Linked DNA regions of Homo sapiens. The protein of the gene in region 6 purifies or fractionates together with the protein of the main gene of each other region. This does not show direct contact. Each region holds a gene or a part of one and is shown on either strand. Other genes may lie near its edges. The genes, in order: SLC7A11, CBR4, MYO6, RNF166, POMGNT1, CLEC4E and CLGN.

Region 1 (2,877 bases), on a different chromosome or scaffold from region 6:
GGAGAAAGAAAGGTGACAGGTGATGGAAAGCCCTATGTGTTACATGGAGGAGTTTGAATTTTATCCATCCACAAAATAAAATATATATATATATATATATATAAATGTGAAACCATTGAAAATTTTGACCTCATTTGAGTTTCAGGAAGAACATTCTGGGGAAACAGTTGAGAGTGTAAAGAGATAAAAGACAAAATTCTTGTTAAAGGCCTGAAATGAAAAGATTTTGAACTTGTACAGGTGGAAATAGAAGAGGAGCTAGATATTTCAGACCAGAGGACAGATGGATGTAGACCATGAGAAAGAAAAGAAGAGTGTTTCCAGGAGACTGGGTCTGCCAACACTTCCAGTTTTTAGTACAGGAAACTGGTGTAAAGTGGGATGCTCCAACAAATTTGGGGAATCAGTAATAGATAAATTCAATCAATCATTAAAACTAAGGCCTTCAATTTAAATGAATATACACTGCTTAAAAAGAAAGCAAAACATGACGACATTTATTATGTAAACTATCAAATGTTTATTTAAATTTCCATTTAAAATATTTTCAAGTAAAATATGTACAAAAATGGTTATAAAATGGTTGAAGCAACTAGAAGCGTGACAGGTATAATACATATAAATACAACCAAAATTCAATTCAATGCAAAGTTGAATGACATCATATTGCACCAAAATTTATTCCATACAAAAGCACATGCATCAAGAGTTTCCATAAGATGAAAACAAACACACTTACTTCATAGCATCTTACCACTTACTTACACAAATAGCCCATAAACACCATCTGGCATTGTGATTGCAGTACCAGAACTCTCCCCAGAGGGAACTCATTTAGCTATAGAAGAATCCATTTTATTTCACATATCACATGCTTGTGCAGGCATCAGTGCTAGGAACCCTAAGAAACAACGCAATCCACAGATGAAAGTCTCTCTGCACCATTTATATCTTCATAGATAAATATCTTAGTTCTAATATGATTGGAATGTGGATGCAGAAATAAAATGCAGTTTTGCTCTTTAAGAATTTTATCAATGTAAGACATTGTATTAAATTTGTATAAAATACACACAATCCCCTCTACTAAGTTTCATGATCACAGTGCCAGAGTGAAGAAACTCTGCTTGAGTTGAGGACCAGTTAGTTAGGATATTGAGGATCACTCTTTTTCAGCTGGATCTCTCTGTTCTTGTGTTTTCAATCACTAGACCAAACCCACGATGCCCCTGAAATTCTGGGAATGGTACAAGGTCATAACTAATGCATTCCAGATCCAAGTTAGGGATTTAGCTGGTCTATAAATTACAGTTTAAGCACAGATCAAAGAGATGGCTGCCAGCATATCCTTCAAGGGTAACCTGAGTTCCAAGACTTTCCCACTGGGCTAAATGGACTCCACTTGTTGCAAATTATAAATGCTTGTCACAGAATATGAAAAATATTTAAATACATTCATAGATAGTACCTAATAATATGTTAACATAAACATAACAACACACATATTATTTTTCTACCCCTTGGCAACTGAAAATGAAGTTACCATTCCTAGGCCAAATTTTTAGACAAAGCTTTCTAAAACCATCTTTATAAAGTAAATTCAGATATGCTTACAATAAAAAGACATAAAAGATTCATCCTGAGATGAATTCTGAGTCAATAACTAAAAACCATTTCTACCAGTGCATCACTACCATGTAATCCATTCTACGCAAGCTCTACAAATATTGAGTCAAATCCTGTCTGTCAGAAAATGAAGACCCAATAAGTTTGCCGAAGTATTCAGTACAAGAGGCCATTTGTCTTGCCTTTTTCTGACATGTGCATACTATAAAATCACAGGTAGCCAACATTTAGTATCAGTAAAAAACAACTACGTTTGTTCACCTGTTTGGCATAGGGAGAAAACAATGTATCTCATAGCATTAAATGATACAGCCTTAACACATATGATGCTCATATTTGCAAAGTTCCCAAATGTTGAGAAGTTCTAGTGAAAAGTCATACTATTGTGCAAAGATGAAAATTTGGAGCCAATGTCTGTATTCAAAATAACCAAAATATATTTTAAAGCAAAATATATCCTGATACTACTATAGATTCTAGGAATTGTCCTAAAAGAGTAAAGTGTTGTTTCCTTTCTGAACATGAATAACATCAAAGGAAGAACCCAGTTCTTAAGACTTAAGTAGGAAATTTATAGAAATTTGATTTATACCAGTAGTAATAACATTCATAAGGAAAAACTATTAGGTAACAATTTTCTCCAAGAAGAGGATCAGATTACTTAAAATTGTTGGAGAATTCTGGTTGTTTGTGCAATAATCATAGTGATTTACATTGCTTTTCTTCTTTCAGAGCAATAAGAAAGTTATTTGGGGTAGTACTTGAAATAATTCATATACACAGTCATTTAACATAGATCGTTTCTAGTCGAGTATGAGCATACATTCATGGGAACAATCTGTTTCATTCTTCAAAGTATGTTTGTACTTTGGAATGAAGGAGAAATTCTAGGGAAAAATTAATTCAGAAATCTTTTGAAATAAGACAGTTCAAACCTAGGACCAGGTAACCACATTGCATTGCCTCCCAGTGTGATATGACTGTGCTTCCAAGTATGCATCTAATAAAGTTAGTTAGTAGGAAAATTTGATGTCTAAATTTTATAATACACATTTAAGTCAGACCACTCACAACCCAACAAATTATACAGCTTTAACATGCAAAGGCCTAATAGGTTTTCCCACAAGATGCTGTAATAATACCCTGTCACACAAGGTACTCAAAATACAGTCACCACTGCAAAAGAGATACCTGTGCATTACTCTTTTTTTCCCCTCTGGCTTTCAGCACGGCCTTCTGAGGCTTTAACAA
Region 2 (3,083 bases), on a different chromosome or scaffold from region 6:
GGGGATTACAACTCATTTTGTAATTTGCAGATTATTCAGTTATAGGGGTGATTAGCATCAAGGGCACACTTTGGCTACTGATTAGACAATTATACCTACATGGGTAACATGTGCTAATCAAACCTGCTGATGCTACAAATGTTAATTTCTGTCTTTATAAAAATATGTCTCAAAAGAACAATGTGTGACAAATTGTGGTTTTTTTTTTTTTGGTCTAAGTTACATCAGTGTTGTTTTGTTTAAAAAGCCTTCATGAGATACAATTCACATACCATATAATCACACATTTAAAATACACAATTCAGTGGTTTTAACATATTTAAATACATGTGCAATCATCCCCCCAGACAAATTGTGTTTTCTAAAGGATGTGTATCACTTACCTTTGGTTACCTCATAGACTGTAGCAATCTTAGTGTATAGACATTTTGCAAGTCATATAAACAAGTATTGATTTATATATTTTGTCTCAAAAGTGGAAAAATTATATTGTCTAATTATGATGAATTATTTTCTTGTATCAAGCTGAATTTTCTAAAAGTTAACCTTGTGGGCTGTTGCCAAAATAAGAGTATTTAGAGGACACTGATTAGTTGTCAATACTTTAGCAAGCCCACTAAAGATAACTATATTCCTTTTGCATGTGCTTGGGTGATCAGTTTTTATACAGGTTGCAAAACATAGTATTCATTAAAGACATGAATTTAGAATTGATTTCTTTGAGTGGTATTTCTCTTGATTGAGCAGCTAGACAAAATAATCTGCAAATTTAAATGTGGCGCATTTGACTCATTCTTGAGAAATTCTCATAAGTGAAGAGGATTAGCCCTTAAGGTTTTAATACCTGGTACAGTAGTGAACCGCACAGATTTCATGAACTTAGGATGTGTTTTTTATTCATGAAAAACTTAGAATAGTGAACTATTAATATTTAAAAACGAGAAATACAACATTTAAAAAATTAAGAGTATTTTGCATTAGTGATTATGATTCTTATCCCAAAATTCTAGAAAGTAATAAATTCTGTATGAATAAGCATAAAAAATAAATAAATATGCAATAACATTAAATTAAATGTCTTTACAAGAAGCAGTGAAGGCACTGGTCTTAAGTGAGAATATTTGCCTGGGAGTAGAGATAAAGACACAAACCGAATGTGAAATACCAGGTAATAATTATTTTGCATTAAACTCTTTTTATCGGGAATAGTATGATATTTTCAGTGTCACTCCATTCATGTTGATTTGGAGCTGACAGTTATTTTGTGTAAGCAGAGATTTAATTTTATATTGAAAGTCAGTGCAAAATTATGAATAGGATATACTAATAAATACAAAGTAATAACAAAAGTCAAAGCAGTGTTCTAAATAAAAATTCTGGGTTCCTTAAAAATTATTTTAAATTTATCTTTGAAATAGTTTTCTTAGATTAATCTCAGGATATGAGAAAGTCAATTAAGTGTGAGTAAAGTTAGTATCATTAAACAAATTGTCTATTAAATGCAAGACGTGGTAATATACAGAATTTATCAGGCATTACCAAGTCTAGGCACATATAGGAAATGCAGCACTCAGAATGGTTTCAATGTAGTAGTTGATGCTTGTAAGGTAGGGGAGCTTATTCAGACATAGTAGATAGTTTCTCTAATGCTGTCTCAATTGCTGGCCTTTGGCTACCTGTACTTCCCCATTATGGCAGCCCATTCAGTCTTGAGTTTTCTTCTCTGGACACCTTATGCTCTGAAATCATGAGCGAGGCTGATTCAATTGGTGATTTGGGTAGAAAGCAGTATGTTTTGCTGACATTAAGATGTAGGTTATAGATAGGTTTAGCCTTTAAGTGTATGTTTTTATACTTTAAAATAAGAAATATAACCTTTTAAGCTATTCCACCTCCTCCCCCAGCCTATCTCAAACTGGTGGAATATATGGAGAGATCTTGAAAGAGGTAAAATAAACCTTCACTGCTCCACTCCAGGTGAATCCGCCCACTCCCACTGACCTAGTAGAATTTGTAATTTAATACTTACCTTCTATTTCTGAAATCAGTTGTGAACTGTTGCCTTATGTTCAGAGGTTTAAGAACCTCAGTGAATTCATTTTTTAAAATCTGCTATTCTGAGAAGCATTGAATGAATTCTTAACAAGAAGACTCATCTGTAGCTGTTTGCTGACTCCTATGAGCCCATAAGGGTTCTGTGCTTAGCATTAACAAAATAAGGTTTATAGGTAAAGCCAATGTATTAATTTTTTTTTGCATGGAGGGCTTTAAAATTTGTGCTCTTTTTCATATTTTATTCATATTCAATTTATGGTTTGTAACTGCTTTTTAGGGAGATAATTATATGTTATAAATTAGTTTTGGGGGGAATAATTGTGCAAAGAGGATAATTTAATTTACGTGCTTCTGTTATTCAGAATAAAGAGAGAAGACTACGCTGCATATTCAAGAGTTGTACCTTAACATTGGTGAAACATTTTTTCTAAGATTTTCAAAAGGAATATGTGTAAATTGAGAAATCATAACCACTGTCCTAACTTGGTAAACAAACTGTTCTTAAATAAAGTATTTAATGATTTTAAACTTTCTGATGTTAATTTTATCTTTCTCTGCAACTATAAGAGTAGAGTTTAAAAATTTGTCTTTCAATTCAATTGTAAAACTTTTGAGGGAAGAGACCATACTGTGTTCATTCATTTAGCTAATTAAGTAACTCAACAGATACTGAGTGGGTACTAAATATTTTGTATTTGTTTTGATACCCACACCTTGCCTACTCATCTCTGAGTATATTGGATATATGCAGTAAAATATTCTTTAGTCATTACATTGTGCCATAGTTGGGGAGATCATTGAGATAAATCTGTTCTGACTCTCAGTTCATATCTTGGAATATTTCTTGATCAGATTCCTTTGGCTTTTTATGCGACTTTGATGCTTGCTTTCACTTTATAACTGAATTTGCAAAGTGAATCGACTATTTTCTCTTAGGCAGTATGCTTTCAGTTTGAGTAATTGTTAATACCAGCAATTTAATTAGAAAGCTTTGGCCTAATAATCCAAATGGAGATGGTATCAGTATT
Region 3 (3,500 bases), on a different chromosome or scaffold from region 6:
CTATAATTTCTTATTCTTCTTAAAAATAAAAAGATGTTGAAAGATGTAATTTTGCCTTTGCAAAAATTACAACCAAGGAAATTATGTAAAAGAGATCTGACCTAACCAACTCCATCTTGCTTCTAACCTCTAAGCTGTCCTTGTTCATTCCTGGGTGTAGGCCGAACTAATCTTGGGAAAGAACTTAGTTTATTAAAGTTTAACTTTGAAACAAACATGATAATAACCCTTTCCCAAAATAAACCCCCTTCTTGCCTGGGGAACCAGTCAGCCTTTGTAGGACTAACAAATTAGCTCCAAGATTAGAAATTACGGTTTAGGAGCCACACAGCCTCCAGCTGCATGAATCTGAACCTCCTCAAATTGCTCCCAGGTATAACATCACAGTTGTAACACCTAAAATCAGTGCTCCAGATATTTTGCAGACCTTCCAATGCACCAGCTGATGCCACCTAGATAGGTAATCCGGCCCAGCCAGTTCTGTGCTCCCACACAGGAACAGAAGCAAGCAAGAAAAACTCAATTTTGACCCCCTATGATTTCATCTCCAACCCAAGCCCCTACCTACCAAATTATCCTTAAAAATTCAGATCTCCGAGTTTTCAGAGAGACTGATTTGAGTAATCATAAAACTCCAGTGTCCCGTACAGCCGACTCTACATTAATTACTGTCTCTCTACTGCAATTCCTATCTTGATAAATCAGCTCTGTCTGGGTAGTGGGCAAGGAGAACCCACTGGGCAGTTACAATATCATGTATCTGGTTAGGCTTACATTTTAAATGCATTATTTCCTTAGTATGCTACACTGCTACCTCCCAAACTGTCTTAGGCAACATTTGTTCTATGAAATGTGAATAGGTATGTCCTGAAAAAAGGATTTACCTGTCAAATGAGTTTATGAAAAGCTGTACACTATACTTCTGTATGGAGGTTCACAATGAACATACTGAGTGAAGCCTCTGAGAATCCTACAGCAAAGAAATCTACTTAACTTCAGTTACTCACAATTTCCTAGGATGATCTGACCTTGAACTTTTTTTTCAGAGTTTCCTATTAACATTCTGCAAAGATCCCTGCCCGGTTACTGACTTCGGTACCACTGTAGAACACAGTCCACAAATGAATGGTGTAACAGATGAGTTTACTATAATGTGTTTCCTATCATAATGCAATGTGTAAAGCTGAACGTATTAAACTACAGTAATAAAGATGTTTCTGTATTTTATTTGGAAAATGATGGGGAAAAGATTCTGCTATCTTTTTTCTTTTTATATTAATAGTTCTCTTTTTATCTATATTCACAATTGTCTAACAAAATACCTCAAAAATAATCTTTGTTAGCATGATTCTTTTTCATTAGGCCAAAAGAATTTTCCTTTTCTACTGATAAGGAAAAATTCGCTGGATCCTTTTCATGTACCTAGCACTATTTCAGGTACTCTGATGAGTATAAGGGGCAACTGTAAATGTAATCAAGTTACTGATTCCTACACAGCTCCCAACAATTAAAGGTTTGCCACAGATCCTTAGGTAACCCCAAAATGTTCTGTCCCTCACTTTTGTCTTGGGCCAGCTATGTAGCTGCTATGACCTGGCCAAACCACACATAAAAGCAGCTTAGCCCAGTATGTCAAAGGGGTTTGAATTCCTAATCCCAAAAGCCATAATCCCAAATGTTGAAATCCCAAAAGATCAAAATTCCTAGATTAAAATCCCTAACATCAAAAATCCTAAAAATCCCAATCAGAGGAATCACAGAAGAATTCCAAAAAGAGCAATCTCATGAAGAAAATGAATATGAACATATTCTCCAAGAACCATGTCCTAAAAGAAAAAAAGCACCTATTATTCGTGGTACAAGACTTCAAAATATAGTTAATGACTGAGAAAGACAGCCAGCTCTATGGACTATCTCCATGCAACTGCCTATAATCTGTCCCTGTGATACACTTTTTTTTATGTCAAACTTCCTTTTTAGTTTTGGGTGTTTTTTTTTTCTTTGTTTTTATTTTCACTATCTTAAATTGTTAGCATTTTTTAATTATGTAGAAATTTTTGGAGAGTTCTAATTTACTGTATTCATTTTTTGCAAATTTAACTCCATGAAAATGCATTACCACAACATTTACTTTCTGGGTAAACATTGTGTATGTATATAAAAACACTGAAACTTAATCAATGAACAGATGTCCTTTATCATACATCTGCACTTGTAAAAGATAAAATTTCTCAAGATTTCAGTTCTCTGGGCAACTACAAATGCAGTGGTGACTCACTATGGTTTTTGACTGATCTCATCAAAAGACAGCTTGTTCATCATCACAGTATTTCAGATGACTGCAGTAACAAAGCTGGGTGCACAATTACCAACCACAATAATATGTGTTTATGCATTTCACCTTTCGCCCTATTCTTTATGAATACGGTTTGTCTGCTCCTGTTATACCCATGCAACTATTGTTAGTATATGTGTTTATAGTTTCAATAAACATATATGTTTATTGCCTATATATATGTTATTGCCTATTTTATTGTGAAAAGTGGCCTATGAAGAGTTCTGTCATGTTTTTATACGTTTCTCAAATCCCCTTTTTAAAATGTAAATAAATATCTTTTTTTATTATTTTTACAGAATCCTAGTTTTGGGACTTTCATCTTTTAAGATTTCAACATTTGGGATTATGGTGTTCAAGACAGTGTCTTTCAGGATTATGACAGACTTCCGTTCAAAAAACAGGATTTAAGAGGGGATGGTGGGGGAAGAGACTGAAACAAAAAACTGACACACCATTTTACATGATCTTGAAAGACATCAAATAATTTAGACTTCACCTTTTATGAAAGGAAAGTTATAAAAGGCTTCTAGTTTAGAGAGATATCTCTAAGAAACCAGGAAAACCAGTCTGGGAGCTAATGGAATTATTATGCAAAAGGTGGAAAAGGACTTCACTAAGGCACTGGCAAGAAAAAGAAAGGAATGTACAGTATTTGGAGAAGGAATCAACAGGATCTGGTGACTGACAATATTTCAGGGATAAGAAAGGAAAATCAATTACAATTAGAATTTTCGGGGTATGTGTATTGTAGATGCCATGCAGGCAGAAAGAAAAGTTCTGGTTTAAGTCTGAGAGATTAGGGGATGGTGAGGGGTGCGGGGACGAGAGATCAAGATAGTGAATTCTGTTTTGTTAGGACACTATGAAACTGACACTCTTATAACACATTTGAATAAAGAAAATAAATATCATACACTCAAAAAATAAAAAAAGAAAGAACATCTACAAATAGGAACCTGGGACCCAGTGTGAACAAGTCTCAGTCTCTGTTGCTCAGCATCACCTCTGAGACAGCTTTACAACACTCCACAAACCATCTTGAAACAATGAAAGATCCTATAGGTGTAAAGGAAAACACCTACATTTGATGACTGAGAGTGAGCACCACTGAACTTTCTTCCAGCGACTGCATGTGAGCCAGTGATTGACTCTTTTAACCAAC
Region 4 (3,500 bases), on a different chromosome or scaffold from region 6:
CTGCCTGGGGAGGACACAGCCGACCTCCAACACAGACAGCAGCTGGCGATTCCACACCGTGGAGCACAAAAGCCAGTCGAGGCTGCTAGAGATGCTCTGAGACATTTTATTTAAACTTTTTTTTTTAAAAAAAAGACAGCAATAATTAATGCCAAGAACAGAAAAGAATGTTGACGTGTTGCCCGGCCCGCCAAGCGGGCCCCTGCCCAGGCCCCCAAGCTCTGCCACCACTGGGGTGCCGTCCCCTCCCGCAGCGGGGCACAGTCAGCTTTGAAGGTGACAGCGGGCCAAGGCCAGGACTCTGGGTGGAGGAGGCCCCTTCTCTGCCGGCCCCGCCTCTGCTGGGAGCAGCCACAGCCTGTGGCTGGGGTGCTGGGATTTCTTCCTGGTCATCAAAGAGAAACGTACAAACCTCAAGGACCCAGACACACAGTGGGTGGCCAGGGCAGACCCCACAGCAGACCCCATGGCTCGCCTGAGCTCTGGCAGCTGCCCCACTGCTCCTTCCATCCTTGCCCCAATCCCCCAATGCTTGTTTTGATTGTTTTCTTAAAAAATATAATTTTGTAAATGTTCCATAAAAATACTATTATTCCTAGTCAAACACAGATATTGCAATATGAAGAGTAACTGCTCTGTCTTTGCTCTATAAAACGTGAAAAGATTATCACACTGGATAATATAGAAAAGATGCCAGGGTTCCTAAGTATCACAAAAGCCAGTACCAAATGCGCAAGGTGGAAGTGGGGCCGGGGCAGGGTCGGGCTGGGCAGGGCAGCAGCCTGGGTTCCTCCCGGCTCGACTGCGGAGCGCGACTCGCGCGTCGGTCCCTTCTTCCCACGAGGGGGTATCATGGCTTTGAAGAGACGGCGGCAGCTCCAGGTCCCAGCGTCCAGCCCTGCCCAAGTAGGCCGCCTGCTCGGCCAGAAGCACCGAAGAACCCAGCGACGCCGGTGGGACCAGGCGGCCCTGCTCTGGCGGCCTCGGCGGCTGGCCCGTATTCAGGCCCGGAGGCTCGGCCCCGGCTCCCCTTCTGCGCGGGTGCAGGCTCCTCCTGTGAGCTCAGTCCGGTGAGGTGCGCTCCCGAGCAGGTGCCAGGTGCGACACAGGAGCGGGGACATCCCTGACCCCAGACGCAGGCGGGTGGCTGCGCTTCCCTTCAGTTCTCAGAGAGAGACAGGGCCAGAGCAGCCTGGAAGGCGGCCTCCTCGTCAATACTGTAGTCCTGGAGACAGGAAGGAGAGATGCACCGGGCTCGAGGGAGACAGGAAGGAGAGGTCCCCTCTGCCCATCACCCACACAGGCGTGTCCACCCTTCCTGCCTCCCTCCAGCAGGACACAGGAAGGACCCAGCTCCACTGTCCCCACAGGCTCGGGGCCTGCACGGTCCTCTGGGGGGTGAGAAGGTGAAGGTGTGTCCATCACCCGCTGGGTACGGGGGCACTCGGAATGGATGGCTGCTGGTTCAGGTCGGACTCTAAGCCCGGGGTTTCCGAGGTGAGCAGGCCGGCCAGGGCTCCCTGACCTCTAACAATTTCCATCCTGAGGCAGGCGGAGCGTGGGTCCCGGACGACTGGCAGAGGGAGTGACAGCCATCGCCAGGACTGTTAGCCAGGGCCAGGAATGAACAGGGCGGCGCAGGGAGGGGCCGCACCAGGAGTGAGGAGTTTGTGCGAGGGTCTGCAGGCCCGGGGGCCAGGTGTGTGCCTGACCCGCGGCGGGTGGGAAAAGGAGACAGGGCTGGAGTGTTCGATGTTGATGAAAGTCCTTCCCGCGCTCTCTAGAAAGCTTCCAGAAGGAAGCCTGGCTCACCCTCGAGGGGTTCTGTGGGGTGGGCAGGCAGGGACCTGCCCTGTGCGGTCCATGTCCCCGAGAGGCCTGGGCACCCTCTAGTGGCCACTCAAACTCAGCTGCCATCACTCCCCACCTGCAGGCAGCCCCCACAGAACCTGGGGGAATGTGGCCACCTGAAACGAGGCTTCTGTTTCTGGCTTCCTCTGAACCCTGCGGACCCTGAGGCTGGCGAGGGGCCCGAGCAGGAGGAGGGTGGATGAGGAGGGCGTGGGGGAGGACGGTGCTGGCGGGATGCCTACCACAAAGGTGTCGTAGGAGAACTTGTGTCGGTGAAGCAGGTGCTGCAGGAAGTTGGCGCTCTTGTAGCTGGGGTCCCCCCAGGGCATTGCCGAGCAGATGGGGCACACCTGGAACAGGCACTGGGGTCAAGCCGAGCCGGACCGCGGAGAGGCGGGGTAGCCGCAGTAGGACTGGGGGCCCTCCACTGAGCCCCGTCAGTGCTGCCTCAGCCTGGGAAGGCACCCCAGACCTGGAGGCGCGTGTCCCGGTGACAAGCGAGTTATTCAGTGCGCGTCACCCTGAAGGACTCATGGACACTCCCCGGTTTCCGCCAGGTGCTGCTCGGGCAGCCAAGTTCCCACCCTGGGTCCCAGGAGGCCTTTGTGGCCTGGGCACCCCCGGACTCGCCGCGAGCAGGCTCCTGGGCCTTGTACTGTCCCCCACAGGCCTCCCCTGGCGCAGGCGTCGCTTGGGGCAGGCACTGCTCACCACGCGGTTGGGGTCGCTGCGGTGGCTTTCCACACAGTGCTTCACCAGCTCCTGCTGGTCCAGGTTGCGGGCACCACAGTACGGGCAGGCGAAGGTGGACCTGTTGGGGATGTTGCTGGCGGGGCGGGGGTAGAGTGAGTGGCACGGCTAGGTGTCTAGGGGCTCTGCCTCCCCGCTTCTCTCAAACACAGGCGTGGCCCCAGGCCTGCCCTCTGTAGGCTGCAAGAGCGTGGCAGTGGCTGGGTGCCCCCCGTGCCTCTGCACGCCATGGCCTCCTGAGGACACACCCAGGACCCTCGTCCACCCCACACAACTAGGCCAGCCAAACGGCAGAGACTCTGCTGGCGCTGCCCTGGCAGGAGCCGTCTCTCGGCCCATCCACCTGCTGGGAGGCGATGTGTGGGCCCGGCCTGCGCCCTCCTCCTGCTCCCCACAGCTGAGCTGTCCCTACCCCAGGGGGCCTGGTGGGTATGCCAGGGAGGGCAGCACAGGAGCCTTCCTGCAGGGTGGCAAGGAAGGTCCACTTCCCCAGAGTGGACCCGGCCCCGGGTGACTCCCCCAGCCTCTCTGGGATGGGGCACTGCGCTTGCTCCCAGAACGAGGAAACCGCCGAGGACAGTTCCTCTCCCTTGCCCGGCAGCGTGCCTACCTGGGGATAGGCTGTGATGTGGGCACCACGGGGACGAACTTGGGGCAGTTGGCCATCTGCTCCTGGACCTTCAGGCAGGACGAAATGTGCACTCTCATCTTTGCCAGGGTCACCTAGGAGACAGGGCAGGGAGGGCAAGGCGGTCCTGAGAATCTGGAAGGGCCGTCCTGGGGAGGCCGAGACCTCAGGTGTCCAGGACCAGAGAACTGTAAGCAAGCGTCTGTGTTGCCAGCAGCAGGGGGACCCGGTCCCTTCTGCTGCTAAAACAATCTCAGGCACTGAGCAGCCA
Region 5 (3,500 bases), on a different chromosome or scaffold from region 6:
TTTATCCTCATTTTTCAGATAAAGAAACTGAGGCAAAAATAGGATAGCTCTTTCCCCAAGGTTACATGGCTAGCAAGTAGCAGAGCTAAGATTGCTTCAGAGTCCATGTTCTTGTTCTTGACTGTCATGCCACACTGTGCCCTGCTCCCTGCCTCCCACTCACGTGAAAGTAGCCATTCATGTTGAGGCCGACGATGCCAAAGTGGTAGGATCGGGAAACGTCAGGGATGATGCACTCTCGGCCCCGGCGTTGTTCAGGCATCCGCATCCACATGTCCCAATCCCAGAGCTGGCAGACATGGACCACGATGAAGGTTAAGATGTTTCGAGTTGGTAGGGGACTCCAGCCCCCTCACCCTACCCTGACAGTTACCTTTTCCGGTGTAGGCCACTTGGGCTCAAGCTCCTCCTTGTACAAGGACCTCCTGAGCACCCAGCCCAGCCCAGGCATGGTCTCCACACGGTACAGTAGTGCTGGGTCCTCAGCCGTGTGTTCATACCCCTGGGGACAGGGTGCCATAGTGGGAGGTATTAGCTGAGGCCTCATAAACTCGCCTGCTAAACCCTGGTCATTCCAGCCTACCTGGTCATTCCAGGCAGAGATGCAGTACAGGCTGTCATCCTCCTCCAGTAGGTGGATGGATTGGCTCAGGAAACTGAGAGAGGCAGGGTCAAAGAGTTCAGGGAGGGACAAGGATAAATCTAGTCACACAGAGATGCTAGAATTGCTGGAGCTGGGTCTCAGGAGCACCTCCTTCCTGGAGTACCTCCTTCCCCCAAATCCCCACTGTCTCCATTCATCCACTGTACCTTCAACAGCAGCCCCAACACCTGCCATCCTACCTTTGCCCAGGCTTCGCCCCCACTTGTGAGCTCATGTCCTCCAGAAAGCTCTCTAGGACACCTCACTGACTCTTTCCCTGCAGACTGAGGGACCTCAACTGAAACCTAGAGACTCCCCTCACCTGAAAAAATCCACAGCAATGTCCAGGTCCTCTTCCAGAACCACAGCAAACTTGGCCTCCTAGAAGGGGAATGGGACATCATGGTCCCAAAGGGGTCTCTCCATCCTGTGATCTCCTTTGCCCCCAACCCTCTTCTTGCAGGCAGCATTACCCCCATTTTCCAGATGTGAAGGATGAGGCCCAGTGAGGGGAAGAGCTTGCCACGTAACAGGCCCAGACCTTATGCCCATGTTTCCCCCCTCCCAGGCCCAAGAGTTGTATCCTTAGTACTCACCGGAAACAGGTTGAAAGTGGCAGTGAGGCTGGCCTTGTAGTGCTGGGAGTGGGGTGGGAATAGGGCACATGAGCTTTAGGGTAGAAGGCAGAGCCAGGTGTCTGCCCCATCCCCACTTGCCTATGCAGTACCTGAGACACGCGGGCATTCTTGATGCTGATGGGAGTATGCTGGATGCCCCTCAGACCAAACAGTGCCACCACATCCATGGGTTCCTGGGGGACATGGCCACTGCTCACCATGTGAGGTCACTTTCCCTCTGCCCACCTCTGCAATCCAAGGCCTTCACATTTCACAGCCCTTGCCTGGGCGGTCTCCCTTGCCCGTCCCTGGCAATCACTGCTGCTCCATGTTGTACTCCACCCGAGGCACCCCCCAAGTCCTGCTCACCTCATAGTAGCCGTCAATGAAAACTGTTATCATCTGAGGAGACACCCCCTGGGCTGAAAGCAGAGAGCGCAGCATCCTGGGGAGCCCAGGGATAGGTTAGGGTCACTTCATCACCCCTCAACTCAGGTTCCCCTGTGTTTACAGCTGGGCCCAGAGTCCCTATGCTTACCCACAGAGGTGAATGCGTCTAGAATCTATTGCCTTTCTGCCCACCTCAAGAGTTCCTCCTGGAGGTAGATGACCTAAGCACCCTCCTGTTCAGTGCTGGGTATAGCCCATTCCCAGGCTTACCTGTACAGGTAATTGGGTCGGTTCCCTGCAATGACAGCCACAGGCACATTGAGGACCTTGTTGTCTGGGAGCTGTGGGAGAAATAGCGTTTAGCTCTTGCCTTATTCCCCCTTCAAACTGGGATCCCCACCTAGGGAAGACTTCTCAGGTGAGGGTAGGTGCAGACTGGAGTAGACAGGGAAGGGATAGAGGATCTTCCCTGTTCTGGGCTCTCCACACACTCAGCCCAACTCTAGCGCTGAGCTTTACTCACATGGCCTGCCCCTTCACCCCAGCCCTGTCTTTCAGAGCGCAGTGTAAATCCTGCCCCTGGTTCTCTCCCAGGCTCAGGTAGGGAAAGCCCAACCTAGATCATTCCTGGGGCCCCCCTGCTGAGCTGGGAAGGAGTCCAAACCTCACTGTCTTAAGGCCCCACTCACTGGGTCAGGGCTGAACTCGATGGGTGTGGGGTCCTTGCAGCTGCATACACTTCCATAGCCCTCAACTTTGCTGCAGAAGCGCCGGCGGCGACGGTTCAGCTCTGTGTCTGCCCAGTGGCACTCTGCCTCTGAGGGAAGGATGCGGTTGTCATGGAGGCATGGGGCCAGCAAGGTTTGAAGAGCCCCAGGCACACAATCAAAGGAATAAAGCTCCACAGAGAGATCTAAATGCCCACCCCCAGCCCAGGCCCTGCCCCATCCATGCTCCACTAACTCCACCTTCTGCTGAGCTCAATGGCACATCTGTCTTCAGCAGGACTGGGTCCCCCCAGGAAGAGAGGGCAGGTGATTTAGAATGTTTCTCCCCGAAGACAGGACCTGGCAGGAGGCAGGAATGAGGGCCATGGGGGCCCAGACACCAGTTTGGGGGCTTTTTCCCATCTCCCTGCCTACTTTCATCCAACCCACTGCCACTGGCTCCTATTTGTTCCCCACCCCACCCCATCTCCTAGGGTTCTGCTCCTCCCAGGCTCTTGATACTACAGAGTGGATGGCCTCTGATGCCGGCACCTCCTTTTCGTCCCACGAAGGCCCATGTGTCCCTCCAGCCCAGGGCAGGGCCAGCCTGGCTGCCCAGGCTCCTCAGCAGAGCCTTGGCTGTGTCCTTGAGGTGGAAGGAGCCCTCATCCTGGGGGACCAGAGAAGGCAGTTAGCCTGACTGGCATGGTTCCAGGAGACCTGGCCTCACAGAGCACGAACTATGTAGCAACCTTTTACTTAAAATAGCTCATTACATTATTGCAATAACCCTCTATGGTTACTCTCTTTCACAGATAAAATAATAACTGAAGGCTTAGAGATTCTAAGGTCATCCAGCTAATAAGTCCTTTCCACAAACCCACACGATCTGCACCTCTCTCTCCCGCCACTCTCTGCCTTCTTTTCCAACCACTCTCCTACTCTCCTCCCTTATTCTGCTCCACCTCGACTAGCATCTTTGCTGTTCCTCAAATATGCCGTGTACCTTCCCACTATAGGGGCTTTGCACTTGCCATTCTTTCCACCTGGAATGCTCTTCCTCCAGATACTCACCTGGCTCACTCCTCAATTCCTCAGCTTTCTGCTCACATATCATCTCCTTGCAGGGGCCTTCTCTTTCTA
Region 6 (2,551 bases):
AACTGTAAAGACAAGTTTAGTTTTATAAACCTGTCTTTAAAACTTGTCTTTAAACTTAAATTCTAAATATATATGGAGAAATAATATGGAATAATATTTCCATATGTCTTTCAATCTAGAAATAAAACTTAAATTATAGCCACCTTCAGGGAAACACCAATGAACAAAAAAAAAGTCTTTCAGCATCTCCTTATTGATGTTCATGATTTTAAAAAAGGGAATTAGAAAGTTGAAAGTATGTTTAAAATTACTTTTAGGTTAAATAATTGGCTTAAAGATGTGTTGATTTGAAAACCAGATTGTCACAATGCCTAAGAGAAATAAACTTTTGCAATGAAAGCTGATGTGTTATATTCACTTGTCCAGTTGAATTTTCTCATTCAGTGATTACACGTGGTGTCCAGTGATTGAATTTTGAGGGTCTCCTCATGGCACTTTGTGCAAGAAACATGGTTATGAAAGCTGCCACGTTATTGATGTACTCTTTAATAACGTCATCAGTATTGGTAGAATTTTATGCAATAAATGAATGGGCTATTACTGGATACATACTCAGAGAAATATAAATCTTTCTACCATAAAGACACATGCACACGAATGTTCATTGCAGCACTATTCACAATAGCAAAAACATGGAATCAATCTAAATGTGAGTCAACAATAGATTGGATAGAGAAAATGTGATACATAGATACCATGGAATACTAAGCAGCCTTAAAAAAGAAGATTATGTCTTTTGTGGGAACATCGGTAGAACTGGAGACCATTATCCTTAGCAAACATGGGAACAGAAAACCAAATACTGCATGTCCTCACTTATAAGTGGGAGCTAAATGATGAGAATTCATAAACACAAAGAAGGGAATAACAGACACTGGAGTCTACTTGAGGGCGGAAGGTAGGAGGAGGGAGAGGAGCCGAAAAAAACAATATTAGGCACTGGGCTTAATACCTGGGTGATGAAATAATCTGTACAACAAACCTCCACGACATGAGTTTACCTATATAAAAAGCCTTTAACATGTACCCCCGAAAGCTAAAATAAAAGTTAAGAAATAATGGATGGGCTTGAGACAGGAAAGTGTGGAGATGAATGTTCGCTTAGAATAAATTGACTATTGGACTCGGGTCCTAGCTGAGCAATAGATACAAAATCTGGTGAGATCCATTCAGTCAATTGAAAATAAGGCAGAGCAAAGGAAGCCCCAGGGATGGGTGGACTTGGTTACAGCCTGTTTGGAGCTGATGGCTGGCATGCCCTTCCCTAAGAAGGTGCAGTGGAGGCCTGTAGCCAGAAAGGCCACACCGGTATTCTGAGCAGGAATAAGTTTCATGACTTGAAGAAGCTTCTTACTCATTATACAGGGGAGTAAAGAGACGATATATGCTTGGGCAGGAGATAAGAACGGTATGAAACCAAGAAGAGAAGACAGACTTGTCAGAAGCTAGAAAGAAGAGGACCTGCTACAGAGCCCGGATTCAGGAGATTTTTGGAAGGCACCTTCCAAAATCCCCTTCTTTGCTAGACTCTGTCTTGGCTCCGTGTCCCTGTACTTTCATACGAACACTAAAAAATGAGGCAAATGTAGCAAAAGGTAGTGAATTGCTTTGTAAATTCTGGGAAGAGGACCTGAGACTAACGTAGAGAGAAAATGCACTTCAGCCAGTAACATGAATTATAACATTTAAAACTACTTATTTTTATTTATATCAGAGTAACAAATACTTATGAAGTCCTTTGAAGTTCAGCGCACAAATTTCTCGTGTGGGGCGGTGGGTGTGGCCATGTTCTTGCTCTTCCTTCTTTACACATTTGAGTTGTGCCTTCTGTTCTTAAAGAGATTTTCCTTTGTTCAAAGGATTTATTCCTACCATTTCACAAATCCGAAAATAATTGAGGAAACAGGTTACATCATTCCAATTTTGCCTTGGGTTTGAAGAGTCTCTCATGGTGGCACAGTCCTCCAGGGTAGCTATGTTGTTGGGCTCCCCTACATCCCAGAAGCTGAAAAAGAATGACATAGGAGACTTAAAATCCCAGCAAAAAGAGGTAAAGTAACCTAATATACTAGGCAAATTACATTTGTGTTATTTAACCTCACAACAATTTTGCGAGGTAGGTATTATAATGTCCATTTTATTGAAGAAGAAAAGGAACCTCAGGAAGCTAAACTAGTTGTCGAAGTCACAGTTTGTGAGTACTGAAGCTGAACCGGATCTTTCTGACTTTCTATTCTGTCCTGTTCCTTTGTTCCTTTTCTATTCTGTCCTGTTCCTTAGCTATAGAATGAGAAGTTATGGGGAAGATTGATATTCTGATAGATTTGTTTTCTTCACACTCATACCTCATATCGGCTTAGCTCTCTTTATTCTGCACAGAGTGTGTATTAACTTAGGTGCATCCTGCAGTGATGTTACAGTGTGGTAGTGAAGCAGCATTTCTAACATGTCAGAGTATCTCTGTTGTACTCTTAGAACTGCTCATTAGCTAAGTCACTTAACTCTGCTGAGTTTTAGTTTCCTCAAATGCTAAATAAAGATTAATAATACT
Region 7 (3,500 bases), on a different chromosome or scaffold from region 6:
AAAACAATTTTGTACAGTGGCTGCATAAATGTGAACACAGTTTCATTGTTCCATTATGCCTAGATTCAATCACCTTGTCCATTTCTTATACTGCAAACTTTTAGAGTTTTCAAATAATTAACTTTTACCTAGTATAAATGATTCACAATGGATTAGAGGATCAACAAAATGTTTATCATACAGCTTGACTACTGCTAAACTTCCAGTCATAGGAAAACCAAGGACATATGCAGAGTATATGGTAACCTTAATTTCTTTAGAGTATCATTTCTCAAATTGTTCCATGAAATAGCAATTACTGTTAGGTGGGAAAATAAACTTATGTGATCAAATGTGTTTGGGAAACACAGTAGTAATGCTGAAAACAGGTTTTCATATGTAGAACTTCTCAGTCTTTAATGAGCTAACATACTTCCTTTTTTAATTTTATTTTTATTTATTTATTTATTTTTTTTTTGAGACAGTCTCACTCTGTTGCCCAGTTGCCCAGGCTGGAGTGCAGTGGCATGATCTCGGCTCACTGCAAGCCCTGCCTCCCGGGTTCACGCCATTCTCCTGCCTCAGCCTCCCGAGTAGCTGGGGCTACAGGCGCCTGCCACCACACCCGGCTAATTTTTTGTATTTTTAGTAGAGACAGGGTTTCACCATGTTAGACAGGATGGTCTTGATCTCCTGACCTCGTGATCCACCCACCTTGGCCTCCCAAAGTGCTGGGATTACAGGTGTGAAGCACTGCGCCAGGCCTTTACTTCCTACGTTTTGAGTTAGGATATTCTTCATCTTTAATTATATTCATATATATTAACATGTATACAATTTGGGAAAAGCAGCTTTATAGTAAAGTTATGTTGTAAATCAGCATTTATAGCATTGAATATAAATCTCTTCATTTTATTTACCCCATTTCATTTTATCAATATTAAGAGGAGACAAACATTCACTCTCCTTTGAATTGTTTTTAAACATATGAAAGACTGCTATTCAATTCTTGGTCCTCTTTTTTTTTCTTTCTTTCTTTTTTTTTGAGGCAAGATCTCATTCTGTCACCCAGGCTGCAATGCACTGGTGTGACCTTGGCTCACTGCAGCCTCGACTTCCTGGGCTTAGGTGATCCTCCCACCTCAGCCTCCAGAGTAGCTGGGACTACAGTCGGGCACCACCATGCCTGGCTAATTTTTAAAATTTTTTTGTAGAGTCGGGGTTTTGCCATGTTGCCAGGTTGGTCTTGAACTCCTGGGTTCAAGCTGTCTGCCCACCTAGGCCTCCCAAAGTGCTGGGATTACACACATGAGGCATGAGGCACCATGCCAGGCATGGTGGGGAGGTGGAGAGGTTGAAAGAAAGGATTATCTGTGAGAATGTGACCTTTAAAAGGGGTCCCTGCTTGAAAGACACTGGTATTCATAAACATTTATTTTTGAAATAAATTTTCTGCCTTTGAATCTTATCACTGGTTTAATAGCAATTTTTATTATTCTGTTCTGAATATATTGTTTAATATTTTGATAACAAGTAATTTTTTTTATTTTTATTTTTTTTTTTATTTTTTTTTTTGAGACGGAGTCTCGCTCTGTCGCCCAGGCTGGAGTGCAGTGGCGGGATCTCGGCTCACTGCAAGCTCCGCCTCCCGGGTTCACGCCATTCTCCTGCCTCAGCCTCCCAAGTAGCTGGGACTACAGGCGCCCGCCACTACGCCCGGCTAATTTTTTGTATTTTTAGTAGAGACGGGGTTTCACCGTTTTAGCCAGGATGGTCTCGATCTCCTGACCTCGTGATCTGCCCGCCTCGGCCTCCCAAAGTGCTGGGATTACAGGCGTGAGCCACCGCGCCCGGCGATAACAAGTAATTTTAAGAGTAAAACAAAAATGGTGATTTTTACTATGCATTATATAGTTTATGACAGCAGAATTGTATATATTACAGTATATATCACATAATTTTTAAATTTTTTTAAGAGAGCCAAACTATTTATTCCTCATTTAGTCAATACAAGCACTCAGACCAAAGGAAATATGCTGCTTAATAGCCCACATACAACTCCTTGAAATAAACAAATATAAATATTAGTACTAGGCCATAAGAATGGTTGATCTTTGTATAATTTTATCATTTACCTGCTTTTTATTGAAAGCATGGATATGTTTGTGTGTATATGCACATTTGTGTTTTAACTAAGTGAAACGAAAAAGGAAGATCTAGATTTTCACATCCATTTTCAAAATACAAGCTATATTCAGAAGCCAAAGCTAATACAAAATTCAGAAAAAGTATTCAAAAACATAGCAACACTTACTGAACTATCAAGGGTTTATCAGCAAAAATGAATGGTTTTGCTAATACAGCAGATATTGCATGATGCTTTGCTCTAGATTTTAATACCAGTCCTCTGTCACCAGGTACCTGGTTTTCTTTCAACTCTTCAATTTCCCATCTTCCTAAAAAATAAAGCAAAGCAAATTAAACTAAAACAGAAAACATTGACCTAAGAATTATTTATCAGCAGTTGTGAACAATAATTTTTATCCAGGAAGCCTGACTTGGGAAAAATAAAAATTTTAAATCAGGAAATATCTTCAACTATATATGTATGCCTGCTCATTTATCTTTTTTTTTCTATCAAAGAATGATTTCATCTTCTTAACTAAAGTTGTGAAAACTAATAGCAAACACTATAGTGTCTAATTAAGTCACTCTTAAAGCTGAATTAGTTTGGTTTTTCTATGAAAGAGTTTTTAATCAATGAAATTATAAAATGTGGTTTGTCTCAATAGGGTATGTCAATATTGTATTTTCAAAATGACATATTTGAAACTGCATATGACACATAACACAAAATGAGTAGTCTATTTATTTTGAAATGCACAATACTCATCAGCTACTTTTCTTACTTGCAGCAGTTATTGTAAAGATTTAAAGTTCATTTTGAAAACTGCATGCTTAATTCACACAAACCCTTCTCAGGGTACACTAATCAGCTCTCAGAACTTTTGGCCAGGAAGGCAGCAAAGCACTGCATAAGTGCTAAGCTACAACAAGGCAAAACTGAGTTAGGCCTTCTCTGTGTTACAATTTTCCATGTTAAGATCAGGACATTCCTGAAATTAGATTATGGGCCACATACAATGCAAAGCTAGGTGGGCTACCTATAGCCCAAAAGTTATATGTTAGACTTTACTCCTTTACTGGTTTTAGAATAGAAAATCAACTTATATTTGTTTGTGTAAAATCTTCTGTTTTGAAAATGATAGGTATTGCCTATTCCAAGAAAATTCAATTCGACAAAACTGGCTATTTTCCAGTATTGTGTCAACTCAAAATATTCATTAATGAGCACTTTTGAATCACAAATGCTCTTATATCATTTTTTTTCTTTCTAAGAAAAATAATGCAAGAACCAGACACAGTCTTATAAATCAAAGAGGGGTAATTTTTGGTCTATAATTGTACATACATTTTTAGACTTTTAAAAATGTGTGTGTTTTTATTAAGTTTCCAAGTTT

Evidence for each region.
Region 1: the proteins of CLEC4E (region 6) and SLC7A11 purify together in Homo sapiens (affinity purification with mass spectrometry; one large-scale study listed by BioGRID and IntAct). This does not show direct contact.
Region 2: the proteins of CLEC4E (region 6) and CBR4 purify together in Homo sapiens (affinity purification with mass spectrometry; one large-scale study listed by BioGRID and IntAct). This does not show direct contact.
Region 3: the proteins of CLEC4E (region 6) and MYO6 purify together in Homo sapiens (affinity purification with mass spectrometry, with the first as the bait; one large-scale study listed by BioGRID). This does not show direct contact.
Region 4: the proteins of CLEC4E (region 6) and RNF166 purify together in Homo sapiens (affinity purification with mass spectrometry; 2 studies listed by BioGRID and IntAct, with this or other methods). This does not show direct contact.
Region 5: the proteins of CLEC4E (region 6) and POMGNT1 purify together in Homo sapiens (affinity purification with mass spectrometry; one large-scale study listed by BioGRID and IntAct). This does not show direct contact.
Region 7: the proteins of CLEC4E (region 6) and CLGN purify together in Homo sapiens (affinity purification with mass spectrometry; 2 studies listed by BioGRID and IntAct, with this or other methods). This does not show direct contact.

The regions. Positions count from the first base shown.
Region 1 is NC_000004.12:138,163,597-138,166,473, forward strand, and holds the end of SLC7A11 (cystine/glutamate transporter), read right to left. Parts: 3' UTR 501-2,877; downstream 1-500. UniProt on the Homo sapiens protein: Heterodimer with SLC3A2, that functions as an antiporter by mediating the exchange of extracellular anionic L-cystine and intracellular L-glutamate across the cellular plasma membrane.
Region 2 is NC_000004.12:168,987,090-168,990,172, reverse strand, and holds the end of CBR4 (3-oxoacyl-[acyl-carrier-protein] reductase), read left to right. Parts: coding exon 1-23; 3' UTR 24-2,583; downstream 2,584-3,083. UniProt on the Homo sapiens protein: Component of the heterotetramer complex KAR (3-ketoacyl-[acyl carrier protein] reductase or 3-ketoacyl-[ACP] reductase) that forms part of the mitochondrial fatty acid synthase (mtFAS).
Region 3 is NC_000006.12:75,881,739-75,885,238, reverse strand, and holds part of MYO6 (unconventional myosin-VI), read right to left. Parts: coding exon 3,421-3,500; intron 1-3,420. UniProt on the Homo sapiens protein: Myosins are actin-based motor molecules with ATPase activity. Unconventional myosins serve in intracellular movements. Myosin 6 is a reverse-direction motor protein that moves towards the minus-end of actin filaments.
Region 4 is NC_000016.10:88,696,409-88,699,908, forward strand, and holds the end of RNF166 (E3 ubiquitin-protein ligase RNF166), read right to left. Parts: exon of another isoform or gene 3,326-3,500; intron 3,325-3,325; coding exon 3,212-3,324; intron 2,678-3,211; coding exon 2,563-2,677; intron 2,202-2,562; coding exon 2,094-2,201; intron 1,708-2,093; coding exon of another isoform or gene 1,526-1,707; intron 1,226-1,525; coding exon 1,160-1,225; 3' UTR 93-1,159; downstream 1-92. UniProt on the Homo sapiens protein: E3 ubiquitin-protein ligase that promotes the ubiquitination of different substrates. In turn, participates in different biological processes including interferon production or autophagy.
Region 5 is NC_000001.11:46,191,935-46,195,434, forward strand, and holds part of POMGNT1 (protein O-linked-mannose beta-1,2-N-acetylglucosaminyltransferase 1), read right to left. Parts: intron 3,028-3,500; coding exon 2,910-3,027; intron 2,718-2,909; coding exon 2,619-2,717; intron 2,468-2,618; coding exon 2,340-2,467; intron 1,992-2,339; coding exon 1,921-1,991; intron 1,706-1,920; coding exon 1,630-1,705; intron 1,455-1,629; coding exon 1,371-1,454; intron 1,282-1,370; coding exon 1,240-1,281; intron 1,025-1,239; coding exon 966-1,024; intron 657-965; coding exon 584-656; intron 503-583; coding exon 374-502; intron 290-373; coding exon 164-289; intron 1-163. UniProt on the Homo sapiens protein: Participates in O-mannosyl glycosylation by catalyzing the addition of N-acetylglucosamine to O-linked mannose on glycoproteins.
Region 6 is NC_000012.12:8,532,805-8,535,355, forward strand, and holds the end of CLEC4E (C-type lectin domain family 4 member E), read right to left. Parts: intron 2,006-2,551; coding exon 1,834-2,005; 3' UTR 501-1,833; downstream 1-500.
Region 7 is NC_000004.12:140,403,649-140,407,148, forward strand, and holds part of CLGN (calmegin precursor), read right to left. Parts: intron 2,436-3,500; coding exon 2,294-2,435; intron 1-2,293. UniProt on the Homo sapiens protein: Functions during spermatogenesis as a chaperone for a range of client proteins that are important for sperm adhesion onto the egg zona pellucida and for subsequent penetration of the zona pellucida.